Regions from separate parts of the Homo sapiens genome. Here region 2 is linked to region 1. The links come from fine-mapping of genetic effects on gene expression. Tissue or cell type: whole blood. Region 1 holds a variant in brackets; the other region holds the start of a gene. All regions are shown on one strand. Distances are from middle to middle.

Region 1 (2,756 bases):
CCCCCACCTCGGGGCTCCCAGCCTGGTCCCGGGCGGCCGACCCCAGCAGCCACAGGTAAGCGCCCGGGGTCCGGGGCGGCAAGAGGCCGTCGCCTGTCACTGGGCTCCGGCTCCACAAAGCGCAGGGCGGAGGCGGCCGCGGGTGGCTCGGCGTGTGACCGCGGCGGGGCCGCGCGGCGCGGGGCCCGGGGGGCGCGGGGCTGGGGCCGCCGCTGACGGGGGAGGAGGCAGGAGCGCGGCGCGCAGAGCCCGGCGCGGCCGCGGGCGGCTGCAAAAGGCGGCCTGGATTGCCGCCGCCCTCCTGTCCGCCAGCCGGGGCCCCGCGCCCCGGCCCCGGCCCCGCCCCCGGCCCGACCCCCACCCCGAGGCCGGAGCCTCCAGGGCACCCGGCGCTGGAATCTGTGTCCTCCTTCCGGACAGGAGAACATCAAGGCGGTAAAGCACAGAAACTTCCTCCCTACCGCAGCAAGCGTGGGGAGAGGGCGCCCACAGGGCTGGGGCCCTTCCCAGGCTGCTGGGTCTCCAGCCCACGTTCCGGATGGACGAAGTCGGCTGCGCCCCGGCCGCACGCCCTCCGCCCCAACCCCGCCTCAGCTGCGAAACGGGGGGCTGGCCCCGACGCCCCCCGCGGTCCCTTCCGGCCCGCGATTGTGGGCGGCCTCTCCCTGGCGGCCCAGGCATTAGCCTGCACTTCCCCGGCCGCCGCTTCACAACTAAATCACCGCGGAAGCTTCCCAGCCAATAAATCACCTGCCCACCGGGCAGAGGGTCCCTCCCACTCCCTGTGTTTGAGACCCGCCAGGCGGATTCAGTGAAGGGCCAGACTTAGCCTTTTAAGACCAGTCTGCAACCTCCTACTCCAGTAGTGGAGGCTTTGCGTTTTTGAATTTCACCCTTGCTGAGATATGACTCATCATTGTCAATTTTCAATATAATTCATACAGTTCGAAGGGAAAATCTCTCAAGGCACAAGAAAGCAGCAAGCTCTCCTCTAGTGTGAGGAGTGACCTTTGTTACTTGACAAAAGTATCGTTTATATGATCAACAGGCATCCTACGCTGTGTGCACACAGCATATCACCGGGAGAGACGGCACGGAAAGATGGCCCTGCCCTCAAGGAGCTGCAGTCTGCCCAGGAAGGCAGACAGGTAAACAAACCAGTCCTAGGGCCTGCAAGAAAAGCAGCAGAGGAACAAAGGGTGGTGGGTG[A/G]AGCTAGGAAGAGGAAGCAACTTACTCTGCTTGCTGATGTCTTAGAGGAAGTGACAAGGAAGAGTGTGAGCCTGCCAGGTGGGCTCCAGCAGGGCTTCCAGCAGAAGTCAGCCAGGAAAAGGCACAGGGAACATTCTGGGAACTGCAAGGAGGACAGGGTGTGCAGAATGGAGTGCCAGCAGATAAGACGAAAGAGGCAGGCAAGGATCCGGTTGCAGAGAGCCCTTCAGGCCGCACGGAAGAGTTCCTAATTGTAGGCTGGCAGAAAGGCTGAAGCTGGAGCTTTCCATGAAAAGACTGGATGAGGACTGTGCCAGTGGCAGTGTGGCCTAAGTGTAGATTAGGGACAGACCAGTTAAAGAGGCTGCTGACACAGTTCAGGTATGAGATGAGGACCTCAACTACTGGCACACTCCACCTCAGTAATCAGAATTCCTGCCGCTTAATCCATTCTTCAAGTATTCAGGTATTTACTGAGCACCTAGCTGAGAGGGGTCTAGGAAGATAATAAAGGTTGCCATGGACCTTTACTGAACTGTGATTCATTTTTGCACGTAAGATAAGTATGTGTGAAGTCATTACAGAACATTCTGAGATGTCATCTGGCCAAGCATAAAGAAGTGAGGTGCAGCTCATCAGTGCAGCAAGGGACCCAAGAAGGCTAGACTGCAGTGGTCTGTAGTAGTTCAGAATGCCTTCGCCAAGGCAGTGACATCAGCGAGATCACAAGGGGTGGGCAACTATTGCAGGGGTGGGAGGTGGCTTGGTGACCGGGCCCTCCGTGAAGGTCAGAGGTGGAGAATGGGAGGTGGGTTACAGGGGACAGTCTACACAGACTTGGGGCGGGCAATCTGGAGTGAGCCAGGCTGTGGAACGCCAGGACCATGCAATCGGAACGTGGGCTTGATACCAAGTGACATCTAACAGGTCCAGTAAAAGAGGCCTACACAATAAAGGCAGCATGTGAGAAAGGCTGACTCTGGAACATCAGGGTAAGGTGGCAGAGTTGGACAAACAAATTCAGATCCTGTTTCTTCCATTTATTGTGATGCAATCCTTTGAACATCATCCATTCAACCAATAGTTACTAAGTACCTACTATATGCCAGGAGCCTCATATATATTAATTCGAAATCTTTACAACCTAAGAAGAAGTACAATTATTATCCCCATTTTACAGACAAGGAAGCTGAGGCACAGATAGGTAACTAGATCAACTCCTCAGAGACAAAGCCAGAATTCAAACTTAAGCCCCCTCAAATCCTCAGAGCCACACTCTGTAAAATGCAGGCAGGCGTCTACAGTGGTAACTATTTTCTGTTACCATTTTCTATGAGTCTGTACTTTCCTCTTCTCGGGTCCAATGTCAAATCATAAAGTCCTCAGTATTCTTCCTAAGAAGTGTCTTTCAGCCGGGCGCGGTGGCTCATGCCTGTAATCCTAGCACTTTGGGAGGCTGAGGCGGGCAGACCACAAGGCCAGGAGATCGAGACCATCCTGGCTAACACAGTGAAACCCCGTCTCTACTAAAAATACAAAAAATTAGC
Region 2 (2,500 bases), 390 kb after region 1:
TCTCAAGCAACCAGTTTCAAAGGAAGCCTGCAACACTTTTCCCCCCTCCTAGCAGACACACATACACACGTGTATGTAAAACTACGAATCTTTCCATCATCTTAAAAATTAGTAATAAATAGAAGCCACCCTCCTTCAGAGAGCAGAACTAAAACAGGATAGTAAGAATTCTATTCTGCTGCAAGTGACTTTGGGTTTCATAATTTTCTAATCACATACAGCTGAGAACTAGAGATTGGGAGCACAAAGAGGAAATCTTCCCCCAATGAGAAAATGATACTTTAATAATAAAGTCCTCCCCCCAGCACCCCGAAATCCACAAACATTCAAGAAATTTACAGTTTCAGTCCTTGACTTCCTTCCCTTCCAGTTTCAGCCAATAATGTAGTCACATGAAATAGTTTAACCTCAAACAAGTAGAACAAGAGCATGAATAAGAGGCCAAGAGAGAGCAGGGGTCAGAAGGCACGCAGGAACGGTCACCTGGCCCGGACAGGACCAAAGAAGTGCCCTGCCCTCGCCCGACTCCCCTCGACTTCGGCTTCGACCCCAGCCTTTTCTTCCTGCCTCCCCCCGGGCGAGTGACTGCTTTCACGGCCGACCCTCTCTGACCACCAGGACGAGGGGCCAAAAAAGAAAGCACACGACCCGGCGCGGGCAAGTTGGACACTTACCTTCCCCTAAAGCGCTACACCATCAATAGTGAGGTGTTCGCGGCCCAGCTCCGGGGAAAGTGGCGGGGATGGGGCGGGAGGCCGCGCGGAGGCTGCGGGGCCGCGGGGCGCAGGGCCGAGAGGGGCGGCCCGCGGGGAGGCGACGCGGAGGGGCTGAGGGGGCTTCCCTGCCGTGACCTTTCCTGCGACTTGAACCTAGGCTCCCTCCTCCTCGGTCGGGCAGATCTTTCAGAAGCAGGAGCCCAGGATCATGTCTGGTTTTGTTTTCCGAGGGCGAGGGGGCTCCCTGAGGATGATGGTGATTTTTTTTTTTTTTTAATCCTCAACTAGGAGAGAAAATGAGGCAGAGACAATGTGGGGAGCGAGAGAGGGGAAAAGGACGGGGGAGGAGGCGGGGACCGAGGCCCAGCGGGGCGAGCGTCTCGGGGTGTGCGGGAGGCTGAGGAGGCTCCGGAGCGCGGAGGGTTGCTCGCGAGCGTCTGTGGGAACAGCGGCACCTCCGCGATGGTGGCGGAGCCGCGGCGGAGCTGCTGCACCGACCCGCCGCCCACTCCCCGCTCGGGCCCGGCCCACCTCGCAGTATCGCGCCCCTCCATTGGTACAGCGCGGTGTGACGCGGCCGGGGGCCCGGCCAATGGGAGGCGGAGGAGGCGGGATCTCTTTTTCCTTTTTTTTTTTTTTTTTTTTTTTTTTTTAATCTTTTTAATAAAATGAGCAGAGAAGAAGGCGGAGAGAGGCCGAGCCTTGACAACGCCGCGGCCCGGGGCTCGAGGGCTCGCGCTGCAGGCGGCGGCCAGAGGCGGTGGGCTGGGCTCCCGCCGCGGGCGCGTCTTTGTGAGAGTGCGAGGCCGGCCCTCCTCCGCCGCCCGCCGCGCTCCAGTACCGCCCCCCGCGCCCCCCGGGCTGGGCCGGGCTGGCGGCGCGGGCAGGTCCCGGGTGGGGTGGGGGGAAGTCCGGTTGATCTTGCTGTTACCCGGGTCTTAATTGGCCTTTTCAGTCATTAGGACGCGGATCCATGTTGCTGCGGGCTACAGAGTGGGTGTAAACCATTCTCATATGGACTCTTTCGAAATTCTGATGAGCGGCTTGTAATATTTTTCAAATAGTGTACATGACAAAAGATGAATTACAGAAAGAAAAATAAAAGTGATAAGTCGCACTGCTTATTTGAAAAGAATAAAAAGTGTCATGAAGGCATAAAGGAGAGACTGTACAGGTACAGAAGGGATTTTAGAAAGAGCAGTGTACAACTCTATAAGGTACGTGTGAAAAAAAATCTAAAAAGAGGAAAAGACCAAACATCACCTCTTTTTCTTTGAAGAATGAAGTATTGTGTCCCACTTCCCGAAAGCCTGATAATCACAGGGTCTATCATGCTGTAAAGGGAGTAGGGGCAGGCCAAATGATCATATTCTAGTTCATATAATTTATGGGATTGAGGGGTTTGGAAATTTCAATTATGATTAGCAGTTTTTGAAATGCACATCATGTTTATTGAGTTCTTTCACAGAGCCTGGCACGAATCCAGGGTGAATCATCAACCTATTGTTGGTTTGTTAATATTCTGTAAATGCTTATTGGTGTCCTTATACCATACACTCTTCCCGAAGGAGTTAAGGTCCGTATAAAATAAGGGGTAGAAAACGTAGCACAAAATAATTCACTCATCTGTTTCAAAAGAAGTGATAATTTTCTCCTTGGAAAATCTATTCAGATTATAATTTCCACATTGAATTATTCATTTTTTTTTTTTTTCTGAGAGGGAGTTTCACTCTTGTTGCCCAGGCTGGAGTGCAATGGCGCGATCTCGGCTCACCGCCACCTCC

Evidence for each region. PIP is the estimated chance that this variant, and not a neighbour inherited with it, causes the effect.
Region 2: RERE starts here. The variant in region 1 is fine-mapped to the expression of RERE in whole blood (TOPMed, PIP above 0.99).

The regions. Positions count from the first base shown.
Region 1 is chr1:8,423,554-8,426,309 of GRCh38, forward strand. All of the region lies in intron 11 of RERE (arginine-glutamic acid dipeptide repeats), which reads right to left. It overlaps RERE-AS1 (RERE antisense RNA 1), which reads left to right and starts at 1,092. Exons shown (of 4, transcript NR_125999.1): 1 at 1,092-1,148. RefSeq lists silencers at 1-231, 542-681. The variant A/G (reference allele first, on the strand shown) is at 1,210.
Region 2 is chr1:8,816,486-8,818,985 of GRCh38, forward strand. RERE (arginine-glutamic acid dipeptide repeats) reads right to left here and starts at 1,155. Exons shown (of 23, transcript NM_001042681.2): 1 at 675-1,155. RefSeq lists silencers at 753-812, 1,063-1,362, 1,463-1,692 and an enhancer at 1,105-1,399.